Linked DNA regions of Homo sapiens: region 2 is linked to region 1. The links come from fine-mapping of genetic effects on gene expression. A gene starts in region 1. The other region holds a variant in brackets. All regions are shown on one strand. Distances are from middle to middle.

Region 1 (10,004 bases):
ACACTTTGTGGTCACAATTCATCTTCTTCAGCCACTAATTATTAAAAATAGGTAAACAGGAAGTGTCACTTGCATAACCAGTCTTCCTGAAACCTTCTGGAAAGCAGCACGGCCAAATCATGAAGGCTGGAGCTGTAGCAGAATTCAAAGTCAGCTTTATGCTCTATGTAAGAACAATCAGAAGAAAAGTGTAGTTTGTTTGACCTGCTGTGGTGTGATAGTTATATTCCAAAATAAGTTATCATAAGGTCTGATGTAAATAAAGATTTTTGAGGATACATGCTTAGAGGGAAAAACATATTTTCAAAATCCTTCCTCCATTTATTTTAAATTGTGGAGGCAGATATTGGCCCCACGTACAATTCTGTGTCTGCTGAACCAGTTGAGAGAATAAGCCCAATTCTGCAGAGCATGGTGCTGGACTCTAGCCCTGAATCAGCTAAAGCCACTGGGAGGGGAGAACCACACAGGGGAACCTTTGCTTGTCCTGAACGAATGCCTTGTCCCCAACCTGTGATGCTGCATGAGAGTAAGGCACTGGGGCCCAGGTCAGATAACTGGCAGCTGTAAGGCCAAAAAACATTGCTGGGGCCACTGCAGTTGTGACAGCTGCTGGGTTCCCACATGCAAATTGCCCCCTCTGGCCACAGGTCCAAACCCAGGAAGGCAGCTTCTGCCTGGAATATATGCAAGTAGCAAGTAAGATACAGGAAAGGCTTCTCTGGAGGAGCTTTCTAGGGAGCAGTACAAGTCAGTGCTCTTTTGGTTTCCCAAAGTCAGAGGCTGCCTCCAGATGTCCCATATCTCTGCAAGGACAACCAACCTTGGGCGACAGAGTGCTCAGAAGCCCAGCCAAGTGAGGGAGGAGCTCATCCTTCATCTCACTCAAGCCACTGCTGGTGTTTACATGGCACATCTGCTGACACCCGTGGGAAGAACACAGAATGGAGTTCCTGGGGAGGGTTAAAGGGGCCTGGCCATCCACAGCAGCAGTTCTGGCTGTGGCTCTACTACAGGTGGCTGGAGCTAAATTGGCCCTTCTGAGCTTCAGTCTCACTGTTGGGAAAATGGGGAGACTGCGCTGAATCACCTCGTCACTCTCTTTCCCCACAAACTTCTAGCACAAAAAAGTGAGGCTGGTTTAACTAGCAAAGCCAAATTCCTTTGGCCCTGCTTTCTGCAGGTGTCACAAAAGGCAAGGAGCTATTGGAGAGACCCTCCCCCCATTGCTAAAACTGTCCACTGAGGTAGCCACCAGGCACACTGTGCACATGAACACTTGAAATGTGACTAGTATCATCGAGAAACTGCATTTTTCATTTTACTATTTAATCCATTTACTAAGTTTAATCCAGTTAAACTTAAAAGCTGATAATTTAGTTTTTTGAAAACTTTCAAGTATGTTTGGAACAGTTAGGGTATGAATCTACTTTTTCACCTATAAATTTTACGAAGTCTAAATATAGATCAAGTACTTCAAATGAAAACTTTGTATCTGAATTGAGATGTGCTGTATATGTAAAGTACACACTAGAGTGTATTTCAAAGACTTAGTACCCCCCAAAATGCAAAACAGTTTTTATATTGATTACATGTTGAAAAAATAATTTTAGTATATTAAATACATTAATAAAATTAACTTCACCAGTTTCTTTTTCCTTTTTAAATATGGCTACTAGAAAATTCAAACATACATGTGGCTCACATTATCTATTTCTGTTGAACAGGACTGTTCTAGAAAAAGTCTTAAAGGCCTACCCTCCTACTGATGACCCAGAGACTGTCCCTGCCCAGTCACTGCTACTGTTGACCTTGGCTCCTGCCCAGGGATGGAGGCTCTCAACTGGGCTGGTTCTACATGGAGGTAAATGGAAAAGTAGAGCTTTAGACTCCTCTCCTCCCCAGATCACCACTAATATTCACAATGCTAGGGCAATCATAGAACGAAAATAAAAATTCCAGAGAAAGCATGTGTCCTAAGAGGACAAACTTACAAATACAGTTCTGGAATTCAGCAAAGAGGTGAAGCAAAGAAGGTTAGGTGAAGTAGCGCTGTTGTTCTTTGAACAGCTTTAACCAGCGTCAGTCCAGCAGTTTCCCCGACAAGAGAAAAGAACCCCTCAATACAGAAAAGAAACAAAGTGTCTGGGCCCTAGCATTTCAAGAAGGCAGCTTTGTCCTTGTTCTGCTTGGCTCAAAAGACCTCCATCCCTCCCTTTAAAAAATAAATTATGTCTTTTCAATTATAAACTGAACAAAACCACATTATAAAAAGTCTAGAAAATAAGAAAAATAAGTATTATTCCATTGCCTTGTTCCCACCACTTAACACATTGGTGCCTTTTCTTCTGTTTTTTTTTTTCTTCTACACATAAGGCTTCTTTTTATCATAGTTATAGTCTTGTGAATGCACTGTTTTGTATCTCACTGTTACTTAACATTTTATCATCAATGGTTTTCATATTATTACATGAGTAGAGATGCTTTGTAGGCAGAGAAAGGTGGCTGACTGAGTCTAATACTCACGGGGAAGAGCATTCTAGTTTGACCACTTAGAAAAGGAACTGCTAATTTGGAAGATCTTGTTAGCATAATTTATTTTGTCACTTTTAAGACAGCCCACCAAGAGGCAGTATATTGTGGTACTTAAAGACTGGCTCTGAGGCTGGGCGCAGTGGCTCATGTCTATAATCCCAGTGCTTTGGGATGCCAAGGCAGGAGGATCACTTTAAGCCAGGAGTTCAAGACCAGCCTGGGCAACAAAGCAAGACCCCATCTCTACAAAAAATAAATTAGCTGGGTGTGGTGGTATGTGCATGTAGTCCCAGCTACCAGGGAGGCTGAGGTAGGAGGATCGCTTGAGCCCATGAGTTTGAAGCTGCAGTGAGTTGTGATCCCACCACTACACTCCAGCCTGGTCAACAGAGTAAGACCCTGTCTCAAAAAAAAAAAAAAAAAAAAAAAAGACAGGCCCTGGAGTTTGAAATCTTGGCTCTGCTACTTGCAACCTATGTGAATTCAGGATATTTACTAACATCTTGGTGTCTCTGTTTTCTCATCCTTAACATGGGAATGATAGTTATAATACCTACTTCACAGTGCCAGTGTAAGGATTAAGTGTATACTACTTAGAATAGCAGACCTCGGTTCATTCAAAGCCAGTTGTGAGACTGTCAACAAGTCATTTAGCATCGCTGCATTTGAGTTTCTTTATCCATAAAATGTCTACTTAATAATTAGAGCTACAATTTACAGAATGCTTATTGTATGTAACGGGGCCTTGAAGTACTTATTTGTCCCATTTTACTGATGAGGAAACCGAGGCTGAGGAATTAACTAACTTGTTCAAAAGTGACAGAGTTGGTTGGGGTGGAGTCAGCATTAGGGCAAAAATCCATCTGATTCCAATTCCTTGTTTTCCCTATACATGCTCTTTTAGGCTCCCAGTCTCAACTATGGGTCTACGAACTTCAGAAAACAGCCCTTTTCAGTTAGTTTCAGCTGCCAGTAGGCGGCTCCAAAAAATATTAAAAAAAAAAAAAAAACCCGCAAGTTTGATGATCTAACTTCTAAATCTGTGTACAGTTGTGGCTCCTTCACAGTTTCAGGAAATCAGGTGGCTAAACGTACCGTCATTGAAAAGCAGCTTCAGAATTATCCTTCTTTTTATCCCACCCTCTTCCACTACTTTAAAAACGTGCAGATTCTAGTAATTTAAAATGGGTTTTGAACTGGAGAAAAACCAAGCCAAGAAAGTTATCTCTGCTTGTTCCACTTATATGAAGACTAGATTCAAGTAATTTAAAATGGATTTTGAACTGCAGAAAAAACCAAGCCAAAAAAGTTGTCTTTGCTTGTTCCACTTATGTGAAGACTGTTCAACTAGTGTGCAAGGGAGGTTATTCCCCCAGGGATCCACCCCTGTCTGCCCCTAAGGCTGAAAGACAGTGGACAAAGACAAGAGTAAGTGGTAATTCATAGCCTGATAATCTTGAATTTTGAAAGCAGACATCAGAGGAAGCAATGGCAGGAAAGAACAAAAGATAGGATGAGAAAACAAGACCTTGGTCACAGAAATTAGTAAGGTCCTGGTTCCAGGCAGGGGCCTTTTAAAATTATGCTGCCAGTTCAGAATTACACTGATTGCGACTTAAAAGCTTCCCAGTGCTTTTCACATCTGCAAATGAAAATGTATTTCAATTACCAGGCTGGTGATTTCAGTATCGTGGGGGAACTCATTATGACTTCTGTTCAGTGACCCCAAGGGTCACATTGTTCCCCCTTTTCCCAAAACTATTGTGCATTGAGAAAAGGCTTTTTTAGCAATAGATGCCCAAGTCCTTGGGAGTCACAGTTGTAAAGAGGCTCTTCCTTAATCCACTCTGTATTGGAATTAACCTACTGAGCAGATATAATCAGAAAATACAAGCAAAACAGACTCTCCAGGTAAAATTCAGCTGCCACTTTGAAATACAAACACCATTTCCTTTTATTAATTGGCTGTGTGGCCTTGAGCAACTTAATCTCTCTGTGCCTCGGGTTTCCTATGTGTAAGATAGCCGGGCCTATTTCATATAAGGTTATTATGAGAATCAACTGGGGCGATAAAGCAAAGCCCCCAGCATAGTATATGGCACATACTCAGCGCTCAGTAAGCGTGAGCGATCCAAAGGATCTAAATGTTAAGGGCCAAGGAGAGCGCTCTTTCCACAGGTGCAAAGTCAGGTAGCGAAGACTGAGTTCAAGCCAGGTCAAGCAAGGGACAGGCCGCGGACAGGCGGGGGCCGGTGGCCGGGTCACGGAGCAGGTTCCCCATAGCCGCAGGGCCTCCGGAACTCGGAGGGCAGGCGCAGGGGACGGGATCGCAGGGCGGGGACAGAGCGCCGGGCCACAAGCCCAAGCGCCGCTGTCTTCGGAGATGCGTCCCGGGGGTGGCCGCGGGAGCCCCGACGCCGAGTCCCGAAGGGGCGGCCCCATCCAACGGCCGAGAGCAGGCGGAGGAGGAGGAGTGGAGGGGAGTGAGGAGGGGTGAGAGGAGGAGGTCCCGCCGCGGCCAAGAAAACAAGCCACGCTCGGGGGAGGAGGCAGAGACCAAACTCCCAACCGCCGCCCAGCGCCGGGGCCAGGCCGGGCCCTTGTCCGCGCCGCCGCCGCCTCTGTCAGCCTCTGTCCGCGCCCTGGGCCCCGGGGGCCGCCGAGGACCGACCCACTGGGTGGGCGGCCGGGCCCGGCGGCGGCGAGGGGAGGCAGCGAGGGGGCTCGGTGAACGCGCAACCGGCGCCCCGAAGGCAGGGCGCGCGGCCGGCCCCGCCGGGCTCAGGAGCGGGCAGCGCTGCGGCCCCAACCGGCAGCGAGGCGGCCCTGGACGGACGCCCGCCCGCCCCCCCCCGGCACTTACGTGGGCCCGGGCCGTGCGGGGCTGCGCGGGGAAGGGAGCGGCCGCCGGCTCGGCGGGGAAGGACGCGGGCGGGGCGGGACTGCTGAGGTAGCTGCGGTGGGGCCGGGCTGCGCTGCACCTCGTTCAGGTACCCAGACGGCAGGCGCGGGGCCGGCTCCAGCCCTCGGGTCGCTGCGCCCAGGCCGGCCAGTCCAAGTCCTTTTGTTGTTGTGCAGCGCTCGCAACAGCTGATCGGCCGCTCCGCTCGCCGTCGGGCCCCGCTGCCCCGCCCCGGGCCGCGCCAGGCCGGGCCCCACCAATCGGCGGTGCGGGGGCCCCGGGGCCGCCCTGCGAGAGGTTGTCACCAACGCACGTGACCTGGCGCCCGGCCGGCGGCGCGCTCAGCTCCGAAACAAGCCCGGGCAACAAAAACCGGGAGCTGAGCGTGAAGGCCTGGGCGAGCGGAAGGGTGGGAGAGAGGGGCTAGGCCGGGGAGGGAAGCGCTGGGGCCGGGGCCGGCTTTCCAGGAGCCGGCGGGAGCGGGGTGCGTAAGAGGCGGGCGAGGAAGAACCGGCGGGCAACGGGAAGGGCAGAGGTGGATCTCTCCCTCAGCGACCCCTCTCGCCGAGTGAAGGGTCGAGGGTTTGGGGCACAAAGGGCGCAGAACGTTTTTTCCTGTGAGAGGAACATTAAGACTCCTGGGAGGGCTGGGGCTAACGCCTCCGAGAGCCCCACCTGGTCAGCCTAGGGTTAGACGTGTAGCCAGGGTGCTGGGAGGGGGCCGCTGCTGGGCCCCAGATAGAGGGGTAGAGGCCGCTCAATCACGGAGCCAGGCCCCACCTGCTGTAGAAACCGCCACCGAGAGCCGGCCGGGCTTGCTGCACGCTCTGGATTCCGCCTGCCTATAGGCGAGGCACAAGGGACTGCGAGACCAGGCCTGAAGGCAGAGAGGTCAGCAGGCTCGGGGGCCTCTGCTCCAGCGGACAACAAGCGCACCGGGCGGGAACGGCCGCCTCCCCAGGCGCTGCAGCCTAGCTCTCATGTGACCCACGGAACTTAGCCCCTCTGTTCTGTTTGCATACCTGCAAATTGTGGGCATTCACGCCGGGACTGCCAACTCACCAGGTTATTTATAGTGACAAGAGAGTGAGACAGTGGGCTTGAAAGTGTTTTCCAGACCAAGGCTCTGTCCCACATATAGGTGGATTAACTGTCTGGCAAAGGCAGGTGAGTAACGTTGATGCCTATCAGCTCTCATGTGGATACTGTTTGGACTGGGATGTAGTTCTTTGACCTGGGGTGAGCTGTATAGCAACCCTGGAGGGATGCCTATCACACATTACAGTATCTGAAAGACACTCACATTCTGACCCTCACAATGTAGTCAGTCCATTTCCAACAATGCTGGTTTTAAAGGATGTAAATTGCAGTGCAGGGAGTTGTCAGACACCAAGGAGTAATGATCAAAATATGATGGTCATTGGACCTTATCTTGGGAGAAAGAGCTAAAACTGTGTTCTAGATAGTCTCACAGACTTGAACATGCTTTGGATTTTAGGTTTTTGCAAATCAGGCTTGTTCTAATATTTTCTCCCACATGCTATGGTAGGAGCCCCATGATCTCTTGTTTCTCCCTAGGAATCCATTGAAGAGGCCATCTCCACATTCAGAACCAAGGTATGATGACAATTACAAGGGGCTAATTTTTAAAAAGAAAAAGGCCTACCTTTTTCCAGTTTGATAAGGTTTATCATGGTTAAAGCAACATGTGAAATCATCATCTTGTTATGATAGAAAAATTCAATATGAAGTAGATCATTTTTCCAAAGATGACCACAACAGTATCTCCATCATGAAGTGGGTGTATTTTTCTTCCCTTTGAATCTGGGCTGACCCTGTGATTGCTCTGACCAATAGAATGTGGCAGAAAGAATGTTCTAGGACTTCCAAGCCTCGTCATTAAGCAAAAGCATTAAGCAAACCCCACAGCTTCTGCTTTGTACTCTGGAAAATGCCAGCCACCCATGAGGAGAGACCACCCTGCTAGCCACAGGGAGAGGCTATGTGAAAAGAAAGAGATGCCTGGCCAGCTCTAGCTCTTCAGCTCATCCCAGCTGAGCTACCAGACACATGAGTGGAAAAGCCCTTAGGAAGTTCCAGCTCCAGCAGACACCATACTGAACAGAGGAGAGATAAGCCATCCCCACGGAGCACTGCCAAAATGACGGCATTGTGAACAAATAAATGATCATTGTTTTAAGGCACTAAATGTTGGGGTAGTTTTTAAAGCAGCGATAACCAAAACACAAAGCTAACAGAAATGCCCATCACAGATCAGTGACTCTAAACTCTACCAAATAGTGTTTGTGATGAAAACATCTTGTCTCAGGAGTCACTTGCTTTCTGTTTACTCTCTTGCTGATTTATAATCTTCCCACCTGGTGCTTGTTTATTCCCAGTGGTGCACCAAGGAGGGCGTGCCTCAGGGCAGCATAGGTGAAGTCTGTCCCTAGGAGGGAGGAGTACTTTACCACGACATTGTTTGGAACTGTTGGAGCATAATAATAAAAAGCAAACTGACTTTTAGTCAATTTTATTTTAAAATTCTTTGCAGACACACAAATTTACTGTGTACTGCCTGTATCTGGGGTGGATCACTCCCACTGCCTCCCTTCCTGGTATGCCACTGGTTTACATAAATGCATGCAGTGAAACTCAGGAGTAATGTCATCTCCATAGCGTAGAGCTGTCTGAACACAACCAAACTGTCAAATTACACAAATGCAAGCAAGCTTTTCATCTGTTCACTGACAAAGACCCAGCCAGGTTCCCTGCCTGGGCAGATCCAGTGAATCCAACCATCCTTTAATTCACAGAATAATTCTTAGCGTGTTGCTATAGTACCCACTTCCAGGCTGACCCCCTGCTGTGGGGGTGACCCTTTCCCCATCTGTCAGAGTTCTCCTGTCTGTTTTCCATGGAGCTCAATACGCTCCCTTATCTACCCTAACAAAAGGGATTCAACCTCAAGTTTTGTTTGGAAGACTCACAGTGCAGGACCACATTCACACCAACAAACAGATACAATGCAACTAATGCCTCTGCCTCCTGCTTATGAAAGCAGGCTGTGGCCATAACCCTGCCAGTTGCATCGAGGCTGCTAAAGAATGTTGTTTCCTACCAACCCATAGGATGGCTACTTGGGGCAGCCTCAGAACACAAAGCAACAAGTTGTTCTGTCTGTACTGAGGAGAATGGCAAAGTGAAGTCCACTTAGGTCGTTTTCTATCTACCCATCAACAGTTAGGATCTGCTGGGCTTCTACCATGGACACAGCATGTTGCCAAGTGTCTGGGAAAGACAAGAATTTTTTTAAATTGCATTTTAGATAAACAATCACTTAGCATTCCAGTGACATCTATTGTCTTAAGGGAAGAAAGGATCTGACTGGGTCTCCAGAAAGCCTGGAACAAAGAAGCAAGAGATTCTGTGATTTCTGCTTTCTGAAATAAAAACAGAAAACAGGCGTTTAACTGGGCTGCCAGTTACCATCTCAGAAAGGAGTCAAGAATTATTCCAGGGCCATAAGTGTAATAGCTTTTCAAGACCCTGCAACCTTTGTGACTTTTGTATGTTTGTCTTTTTGTTTAACCCTATTTCCACGTGGTGATTAGAAATAAAATCCTTAAAATAAAAAGGGTCTGTGTGCTGGCTGAGGCAGCAGAAAGGAAAAAGGAGGCGGGCCCCCTTCATTCAGTAACCAGTGCTAGGGGGGAGTCCCCAAGAGGTGGGATAGCCTGCGCTGGATTGTAACTAATGATCGCTTCAGGCCTAGAGTATTTTCTCTAGTTTCTGGAAAGTACTTTCAAGGCTTCTTAGTTTCTGGCTGAATGTACAGGTAACCCAATTATTTATGTTAAAACTTAGAGCAGAGGCTGGGCACGGTGGCTTACGCCTGTAATCCCAGCACTTTGGGAGGCCGAGGCAGGTGGATCACCTGAGGTCGGGAGTTCAAGACCAGCCTGACCAACATGGAGAAACCCCGTCTCTACTAAAAATACAAAATTAGCTGGTCATGGTGGTGCATTCCTGTAATCCCAGCTACTCGGGAAGCTGAGGCAGGAGAATCGCTTGAACCGGGGAGGCGGAGGTTGCATGAGCCGAGATCGCACCATTGCACTCCAGCCTGGGCAACAAGACGGAAACTCCATCTCAAGAAAAAAAAAAACAAAAAAAAAACCTTTGAGCAGAAAGCAAGGTCATCCCTTACTGGATATGGTCTAGAGACATGATACAGAATGGCCCTTCATACACCACCCTAGCTCCAAGGAGCCATGAAGCTTGAAGAGGCGCACTGTGTGGGGCAGATGTGACTCGTTCTTGGGGCGGTTGTCAGAGATTAGTTGAAGTGTGTGAGCAAAGGGCTTTTGTAACTCCCGCTGCCAAAGCGACTTCTTCACTCACACTGATACTTCTGGGCACTGCCCAACAGTCCGCATATGCCAGAGGCAACCTGAGGTGGGTCTGTAATCATGAATTGCTTTGTTAGGGTGACAGCATGAGTGCAAGTGCCTTTCTGCTCTTCTCAAAAGGATGCAGATGATATGGTTACTACTTACATAAGCCA
Region 2 (10,004 bases), 250 kb after region 1:
GGGGATCCCAGAGATCTATGTCTAATTCTGCGTCTGCTTCTTGGTACACCCAGGAACTTCTACGGGATGAATGAACCACCTGTGAGGTATTAGCACAGCGGGGAGTTGGCTTGGTGTAGTGGGAAGAGCCAGGCCTTCTCACTCAGTCAGATCTGGGTTAGGATTTTTTTTTCTGCCATCTTCCTTGCTGTGTGCTGGTGGCTTTTCCACTCTATCTTCCTCATAGAGATCTGGCCTCATGCTCTCAGACTTCATATAAGAATAAATAAAATACTACATGCAAAAGGAATAATATTATATACTGCCAAACACTCTACAAAATATACTGAAAGTGCTTGGAGAGCTTTAAATAGGGTTTCTGAAAATTTGCCTTTTGCATGGGTGGTAGGAAGAGAGGAAGTCGAGTTAATTCCAAATGGTGGCTGATGCTGACTTGGTTTTGATGGACTGAACCAGCCAGATCCTCCAACCCGCCCGGACTCTGCTTCTACTTCGCTCCCTGTCAGGATTTGGGTGTGGGAGCCCAGTGGGCCCCATGCCAATCTGGGTCATAACTAGAACTGCCAGTACTAATCATGCAGAGCTGCTGGTCTAGTTCTTATTTCTGCCCCTGCACCCATAGAAGAGGCAGTGCTCTTGGTCTGGGTGGAAACGGAGGCAAAGTGGACAGCACCTTACCCGCTCTGCCACGGCCACCTGCTGGCTGCCTTGGCCAGCAGTCACTGAGCTTGGAACCTTGAGGGGGGATTGGAGGTGACCTTGGGGCCATCTCAAAGGATACACCTGTTTCTGCTGCCAAGAGCAGCTACCTACAAGGGCAGGTATGGGTTTTTTCTGTTGCTGAGACGGGTTGTATCCCTCTCCTAAAGCTCCCCTCGGTTCCGTCTATAAAAGATGTAATATGGTGGCCGAGTTAAGCGCTTGGATTCTGCCACTGAACTTGTTTTCTTGGAGATCTGACTCGTTGCCATCAGCAACATGGGCGGGGTGGAGCTGGCTTTCTCTGCATCTGTTCTCCTCTACACCTGATGTTAACAGAATGCCTGGATTCCGGGGACTTCCAGGTCTAGCCGGGCCAGTTTAGACTGTGCCAGGGATCTGTAATTAGGCAAGCAGTTGGGTCAGAAAAATACACAGGCACTGGAGGACCTGACAAGGTGAGGAGGGAGAGCGGGGAGGCCCTGCCTCAGCCAGGAGTCTTCAATGTAGATGCTGCGTGCTGGGCTCTGGTATGGCCAGCACTGGGCCTACAGATGAGCTGCATTGGGGAAGTAAAAAGTGAAGAGACCGGCCGCATTGAGAAGCAGGACCAGAGCAAAGTGCATTGATTGACAAAGGCATCTCTCTGAAAACTTTAGAGAACAGTCTTTGAGAATGTTATGTCACTTTTGCTTATATCAACATGCAAAACTATAAAGCCATTTCATCTTTGTCTTTTGCTATGGTCAATAGCTAAAAATACCCCCAGCACTGGACAGGATGAGTACAGCATAGTGGCTAATTAAATATGCAAGTTTTAGAGCCAGACCACCTGGATTCGAAACCTAACTTTACTCCCTTCTCACTGGGTGACATGGAACAAGTCATATGGAACAACCGATTCGTGCCTCAGGTTTCTCTTATGGAAAATGGGGCTAATAATAGTATTCACATCGTAAGATTGTTGTAGTGAGAAGAAAATGTGAGTAATACATGTAAAGTGCTTAGAACAGGAATTGGCATGAATAAATGCTCAATAAGTTTTAGCTACTCTTGTTTTATGTCATTGTTTCAAGAGTATAACTTTTCTCCTTTCCTTCTGGTATCATGGATCTGATGAAAAATAGGTTGCAACCTGTATGTCAAGTTCAACCAATTGGTTGTAGCTACCTGGAGAGCTGTGTTGAGAAGGATTCTGAGGCTGCATCAACCTCATTTAAGGGGAAATTATATAGTGTCCTATGAGTAGTACTATGAGTAGCATCTCTGCTACTGGATATGGTAGTGGGGAGTGGTGGCATTGGTGCCACATCATTTCCATTCCTGTATTATAACTTGTCTTGTTGTAAGGTTTGTTTTTCCCTGTGTCTGTCTCAGCCCTCCCCTCCCCATCTGCCTTTGCCTCTGTAGGGCATCCTGGTCCGTGGATGGGCTTGGATGCCAAGAGCTGCTCTGTAAGAACCTTCTCAGATGATGATGATGATGATGATGATGATGATGATGATTCTGGAGAAAGCAAAGACCACATGGCCTGATACTGAGGATGCTGCTAGGCCGTGAAGCACCCACAGGATCCTTTGTGTGCCAATCAAGGGCACCCTTAGAGAAATCAGGAAACTCTTCGCTGAGCAGGTTAATCTTCATGACGCCCATGGTTCTGGAATCGGAACACTAATGATTAGCACAGAAACTTCCCCACAGCCTCAGTAATCATTGACTTATTAATCCATGCAGTTCAGGACCTTGTGCTGAGTTATCTCTATTTCCATTCATTGGTCAGTCTTTTCTGTCTGGACACAGGACCACTGTGGTCAGGTCATCCAGTGGCACCGCCATGGCCATCCGGGTTTGCTGAGTGCCATTCTGCTAACTTTTGTGAGCTGTGCTCTGTCTTGAGTCTGACACCTGATTTGAATATCTGGCTTTACCAATTACTATCCTTATCATTTGGGTAAGTTGTTTAAACTCTCAAAGCCTCACTTTCCTTGTCTATAAAATGGGAGGAATAACAGTTCCACCTCATCAGGTTGCCGTGAGGCCTAATGAAAGAATGCATTGTAAGTGCTTGGTATGTGCCTCGCCCATATTAAGCATGCCAAAAGCGACAGCTCTTGTTTTCCTAACTCAATCAGAAAGCTCGTTAAGTGATATGACATAAAAATAATGGTTCATATGTGTATGGCACTTTCACATTCATTGTGCTGGGCATAGAGCAAATGCTCAATGAGGATTAGCTACGATTATTATCATTAAAAACAACATTGACAGTGACAGCTCTACTTAAGCTGCTAGGAAGGGTGAGATAATCACCCAAGTCCTAGACTAGGCTTCTTAATCTGGTGCCCATGGACCTGTTGGTGATCTGGGGATAGAATTTATGGGGTTTGTGACCTTGGATGAGAAAAAAAATTAGACCTTTATTTCCAATAACCTCTAACTGAAATTTAGAATTAATTTCAATTGTGAATGTAGGAAACAAAATACATCACCTGTGATGTTGACACTAATATACATCTACATCTTTTTTTCTTTTTTTTTTTTTGAGACAGAGTTTCACTCTGTCACCCAGGCTGGAGTGGTGCAGTGGCACCATCTTGGCTTACTGTAACTTCTGCCTCCTGGGTTCAAGCGATTCTCCTGCCTCAGCCTCCTGAGTATTTGGATTTACAGGTGCCCATGACCATGCCCTACTAATTTTTGTGTTTTTAGTAGAGACTGGGTTCTACCATGTTGGCCAGGCTGGTCTCGAACTCCTGACCTCAAGTGATTTCCCTGCCTTGGCCTCCCAAAGTGCCGGTATTACAGGTGTGAGCCACCATGCCTGGTTTAAATCTGCATCTCTTTATAGTTGTTGCAGATATCTTGAAATATTGGGTGTTTGTTGCTACTTCAAAATTATGGTAGATAGTAAATCTCTACTATAACTCATTATTTAATATCTTAATAAAGAAGCACATATTTTGATACTTACATTTCAATATAACTGGTTTTTTTGAATACTATATATTTTATTTTGTGCATTTAATAATCATCTTCAGAAAAGTCCACAGCTTCACCAGACTGCCAAAGGCATCCGCGGCACAAAAAGAGTTAAGAAGTTACAGAGTGCAAGGCTGTCCCCAGGATCACCTCACTTCTGATGCCAATTATCTGTTGAGGGGTGGTGGGAGTGGGAGGGGATCAGGTCTGGCCACCCTCAGATCTGATAAATCAGCAGGAGGACTTACCAACTGAAAGCTGTTACACTTATAGTTTCAGTGGAAGGAATGGGCCAAAGGAAGAAATGCATGGAGCAGAAAGTCCCGAAAGGGAAGCTTCTAGTTGTCCTCTCCCAGTAGACTCATGGGCAGCACCAACTTTTCCTGGCCAGGATATGTGACAGTACATGTGGAGTACTGCCACCCAAGGAGCCTCACCCGAGCCTTTGTGTACAGAGTTTTTACTGGGTCTCAGACAGGTAGACATGGTGGACTACTTGTGTGACTGACCTTTAATCTCCAGCCCTTCTGGAGGTCGAGCTGATACTATGTGGCTCAAAGCCCCCAACATAAATCACGCTGTTAGGCTATTCAATGTGGTTCAAGACTGCCCAGGCAAACAAAGACACTCTTATCAGGCAGGACATCCCCAGGGCTTAGAGGTACCTCCCAGGAACCTCTGGACATCTCTGGATAAGGCCAATTCTTTACTACACAGTACCCTACTCTTGAAACTGCCACAGAGCTGCACACTTGGAGCAGCTGGAGGTAGGTGAGAGGGTGGAAGAATTAGCTAACACATAGTTGTAGCCACTGAAACACAATTTAGTGGAAGATTTCTTTTTGTACCTGCAAAGACAGCATAGAGTTCATTGCTTTCAGAGGCAACTGAGTAGTTCCAGGTTAAAAATATCACTTGGCCTGGGTTTAGCACCTAACACTTTTCAGTGTATTTCCATCTGTTGTCTCATTTAATCCTCAAAAGAGGTGGAAAGAAGGGGTGTTGTTAAGCCTGGCCTGGAGGTTGGGGCTCACCAGGGTCATGGGATGAGGGAGCAGGGGCAGCATGTGGAGGGTCCTGGCTACTTCCCTCACCCTGCCACACCCTGACTCCTCCTCCCAGGTTGTTCAGACAGAGCGAGTCCTGTGGTCAAGAAGATCAGCAGATATTTTGCAGAATCAGGTATCTGGTAATGCCAGGGTTGTGCAGGGAGCTTAAGCAGCTTTGGAGATGACCTGTTGTGGAGTACACCACACTGGGCGATTACATGAGGTCACTGCCCACCTGATGTGACCAACTTACTTGTGGGAAAGCAGGCTGTTTGCTGGAGTCTCTGAGGTCCAACATGTTTTGATTCATCTGAAGCAAGCCTTCACCCAGGGTCATGACCTCACCCTGAAGTTTGGTGTAAATTCCATGCAATCTCTGTGTAAACATTGGAAAGCCACTCTTTCAGGGCGCTTTCCTTTAGGGGCCTTCCCTGGGGGGTTAGGCCATTTCTGTGGGGCTGCAGCTGCAATGGCAATGGCTGTACCTGGTTCCTCTGCAGGAGGCTGAACCCCCTGAAGGGGAAGAAAGGCAGTGTGTCTGGGACTCTGCCCACTCCCTCTGACCTGTACTGTTCCCTCAGGCTTTCTGGGGTGCAGCTGGGATCTAGATAGCCTTGTGTTTTCTCTGAAGGTGACATCTGTCTTCACAAGTGCATTTGTATATAATTTGTACAGGAATTGGCACTATTTTATGGAGGTCTGTGTGGTTTTTTTAGCTGCCATTTTTGCTTCCTGCTTACCTGTGATGCTCGTCCATAATTATTGGAAGCACCACTCTTTCAGGCAGTTATCTGACTGGGCTGCAGCTCCATGGAGCAGGGCCTGCCCTGTCCTGTTCACAGCTGCATCTTGCCGCCTATGACAGTGCCTGGCATGTACAGCACTTGCTAAATGTTTGTTGAATGAATAAATAGAAAAGAATCTTATGAGGCTACTCACTGACTTAGTTTCCTGTGGCTCCTGTAACATATTACTGTAAACCTGGTGGCTTATAACAGCAGGCATTTCTTCTCTTACAGTTCCGAAGGCTGGAAGTCCACAATCAGTGTCACTGGCTGAAATCAAGGTGCTGGCAGGCTGCGCTCCCTCTGGAGGCTCTAGGGGAGAATCCATGTCTTCCAGCCTCTGACGGCTGCAG[C/T]GTTTCTTGGCTGTGGTCGCAGTCTCTGCCCCCGTGGTCACATCACCTTCTCCTCTCCTGTGTGTGCCTCCGCCTTATTAGGGCCACCTGGATAATCCAGGATCATCTCCTCATTTCAGAATCCTGGATCCGGTAGCAAAGTGCCCCTCCCTCTTTTCTGTATCGGTGGCAGCCACAGGGAGTGGGGATCAGGAGGTGGCTATCTGCCACACTCACGAAGGGGATGGAAACCTGAAGGGAGCTGGTCACTCCCTCACTGAGGAGCCTGGTTGGGGAGAAGACACGTGGTCCTAAACACTTCTAATTCAGGGAGAGGTGTCGACGAGGACTCCAGTTCATAGGGAAAGCTGTCATGCCCATGGGTGGGAGCCTCCATTACTATGGAAAGTCTAAGAACCACTTCCTTTTGCCCTTAGAGCCCATTCCTCAGCAGACCTCCACTCGCGTCGCCAAAGCAGATCCCAGACTTGACTCTCATGTTGTAGTGGCACATGGAGGAGCAGGGAGCCCATCCTCACTAGGGCCCGGGTTCGAGGGCCCCCTGGGCATTCTGATGGGCACCCCATCTCCTCCTGAACAGTGCTGATTAGTCACTCTCCCATGGGGAGGGCAGGGGTTAGTGGAAGAAGCAGAACAACTTGCTGGGAGATAAGGGAAGATCATTTTAAAAGGTCAGATGCCACATAAGGAAAGGTCAGGTAAGAAGGAGCCTCAGGCTGGCAGCCTACAAAACGTGGTAAATTTTGCTTTTTAAATTCCCCGGGACCTGAAGCTGCTGCACCTGTCTTCTGTCTCCAAGCAGATCGTGAAAAAGAAAGATCAAAGAAAATGGAAAGGGGCTGGGTGTCTGCATATAGTAGGCTTGTCTATACACACGCCCACTCCACATCACCCTCTTAATGGAACTCCCCTGCCCGCAGTGGTTCCAAATACCTTTTTGGCTTATTGTTCTAGGGACCTGTATACTGTAGGCCCCTCTTATCCATGCAGGATAGGTTCCAAGACCCCTAGCAGATGCCTGAAACTTCCAAGAGTACTGAACCCTATATATACTGTACCATGTTTTTTCTTTTCTTTTCTTTTTTTTAATAGAGATAGGGCCTCACTGTGTTGCCCAGGCTGGTCTCGAGATCCTCCCACCTTGGCCTTCCAAAGTATTGGGATTACGGGCGTGAGCCACTGCACCCGGCCTACTATGTTTTTTTGATTTGACAGTGATGCTGGCTACTAAGTGCCTCACAGGCAGGTAGAATCTATGGTGTGGAGATGCTGGGCAAAGGGACCATTCACATCCTGGGCAAGACGCAGTGGGACAGCACGAGATTTCATCACAGTACTCAGAATGGTGCAAAATTTAAAACTTATAAGTTATTTCTTTCTGGAATGTTCCATTTAATATTTTCAAACTACAGCTGACCACAGGTAACTGGAACCTCAAAAAGTGGATAAGAGGGGATATCCTTCAGATATTCTCGTAAGTTGCCCTGATGTCATCATTGCTTTGATCGGGTATCCTAGACCACCCAGGTAAAGAGTGCCCAGGTACAGGCGGGAGTACAGCAGAGTATAATTCCAGGACCTCTCGGCTCAAGTCCTGTTAATACCCAGCTGGTGTGGGGGTTGGGTAGGTACAGAGTCTGCATTTTCCTTCCTGCAGGGCTTAACTGTCTCCAGCCTGGATGGGCTGCCCTCCCTGGTAGTCTCACCTCTGCCTCCTAGGGGCCCTGGGCAGAATCTTTGTCTATTTTGCCTCCCTTTTATCTGATTCATCACCTGTGGGCACCAAGAGCTATTGTGGAATATTGGGCAGAGTCCTGCGTGACGATTCAGGTGGCCTTGGGTGAACTTCTGCTTTGGATCGCTGAGTTTTCACAGATCAGAAGGCATCTCTGGGCCTCCTCCATCTGCTGGTCTGAAGTGGGGGAAAACGGGGTGATCAACAAGCCTCTTTCCAGTGGTGGCACTCCGGGCCTCTGTGGTGCTGGGATTGGCTCAACCAAAAACCCAGCCTGGATCCTGAAGCCCAGGCTTTATTCTGCCTGTATCTGTGGCCCTCCTTTAAAGTGCCGGGATGAGCTGGTTTGGTGGCACATGGCTCTGTGTCAAATATGTGAAAGAGCAGCCTGGACCTCGCATTTTCAGAGAGGAGAGGACAGGCCGTCTTTGGCACACTCGAGTGGGCAGGGGCCAGGTGGTGGGGCTGAGGAAGGGGTGCAGGGGTGGAGTGGGGTAGGGGGGTCCAGAAAGATCCAGCATCCTCCCATCTGCAGCTCTCTCATGGGGTGGATCTGCATGTCCTTTTGCTGGGCAGAGGAGCCTGAAGGGATGTATCAGCAGGTGGCTGTCTGTCTAATTCACGCTATAACACCATACCATAGACTGGGTGGCTTAAACAATAGACGTTCACTTCTCACAATTCTGGAGCATGGGATTCCAAGATCAGGGTGCCAGCATGGTTGAGTTCTGGGGAAGGCTGTCTTCTCAGCTTGCAGACAGCCGACTGCTCACTGTCTATTCACATGGGGACAGAGAGGTCACCTCTCTTATGTCTTTTCTTATAAGGGCACTAATCCCATTTGTGAAGTCTCCACCCTCATGACCTAATCACCTCCCAAAGGCCACACCTCCTAATACCTTTGCAGTGGGGATTAGGGATTCAACATATGAATTTGGGGCGGTGGGGAGGGCCACCAACATAGCACTGTCCTTGAGGGGTCAGTGGTGGCAGTGTCACTCCTGCTGCCCATGAGGCCAGATGCCTGCTGGGGAGTCTGGGCATGAACACGAGGTGGGGAAAGGGAGTTCCATCCCAACCCCTTCCCTGAGGATAAGCTTGCCTGGACAGAGAGCCTCCCAGTTTACAAGTGTAAGGTATATGGATGTGCTTTGGTCAAGAACAGGCCGAGGTGGATATCCAGGCCTGCATGACTCAGTGAGTTTAGAGTGCAGGCATATAACTCCACTTGTTATCACAGCCATGTAGCCATGTGGCCCGATGCCACTATTGTCTGTAAAAGCTATAATTGCCCTGCTGACTCTGTACAGGTGCACTTGCACCCAGAGAAAGAGAGAGAGAGCCAGAGCTGTCGGTCTTTGCAGATGGACAGGGGGAGCCAGGACACAGCTCAGCCTACTCATGCCCAGAGAGAGAAAGAGTTCAGCTGCTGACCCTGAAGGCAAGGGAGAGCTGGCCACGCAGGTGTGTGTGGGAGCTGGCTGCTGAGAGGAGCCGCCGAGCTGGAGCAGGCAGCCAAAATAAAGGTGAACAGTGTAAACGAGCTAGTGTAAGCTGCTGATGAGAGAGCTGCTGAATAAAATTACATTTCACCTGCCTACAGCACCCCGAGTGTTCTTTCAGCTATCTGCTCATCCATCCCCTCTTTTCGGACCTCAGCTGGGACTGGACCCCAACCCTGAGCATAACAACAAGTGATACTTTTGTTAGGTCCATTTTCACTTCATCAGAAATGTCCTGAGCTCTCCCTGGGCACTGTCCTGTGGCTGGTAAGAGGCAGAGGTGAGTCAGATGTGAAGCCCACTCTCTAGGGGTTCCTCCTCGTAGGGCAGATGGGCAGGTGAACCCGGTACGAGGAGCCCAACAAGTTAGGTGTGTACAAGGTTCAGACTTGTCATCTTGACATTTCCCAGATGTACCACGTTCCTTCCCACTTCAAGGCCTTGCCACATGCTGTTCCCTCTGCCTGAACCCCTTTCTCCCCTTCCTCTGATAAACTCCTAGTTATACTTCAGGTGCTCCTGAAAGTCTTCCCCGAGGCCCTTCCCTTCATTATGCCAATTGCTGTTGTTCGACAATCTTAGAAACCTGTGTTTCCTTTTCCTCTCCCTCCTGCAGGGCAGGAACCGTGTCAGTCTTGTTCCTTGTTGTAACCCAGTGCCGGGCACATGGTAAGTACTCGGGAAATGTTTATTGAATGAATGAAGAAAGCTGTTGCACAGAGGAGTCACTGGTTCACTCTAGAAGTGGGGGAATCTGGGAGGATTTTCTGGAGGAGGTGATGACTAAGCCAGGTGTTGAAGGAAGAATAGAAGTTTGCAGGGCATACCAGGCAGTGGAAACAGCATGCACAAAGACTCAGAGAGGTGGCGTCTTATGGAAGCTCACTGTTGTTGGAATGCAG

Alleles and levels. Positions count from the first base shown, and alleles are read on the strand shown. Sizes are in standard deviations (SD) of each study's normalised expression.
For the expression in spleen of the gene that starts at base 5,623 in region 1, T is the low allele of the variant in region 2 and C is the other (large effect, 0.78 SD a copy in GTEx).

The links. PIP is the estimated chance that this variant, and not a neighbour inherited with it, causes the effect.
Region 2: its variant is fine-mapped to the expression of TP53INP1 in spleen (GTEx, PIP 0.92).

What each region holds. Positions count from the first base shown.
Region 1 is chr8:94,943,756-94,953,759 of GRCh38, forward strand. TP53INP1 (tumor protein p53 inducible nuclear protein 1) reads right to left here and starts at 5,623. Exons shown (of 4, transcript NM_033285.4): 1 at 5,399-5,623. It also overlaps a transcript of NDUFAF6 not described here. RefSeq lists enhancers at 4,964-5,592, 5,593-6,222, 6,089-6,258, 6,429-6,478 and silencers at 5,039-5,178, 5,399-5,778, 5,859-5,968.
Region 2 is chr8:95,195,542-95,205,545 of GRCh38, forward strand. No RefSeq gene overlaps it. Among named protein-coding and RNA genes, the nearest start is that of LINC01298, 16 kb to the right of the region's middle. The variant C/T (reference allele first, on the strand shown) is at 5,866.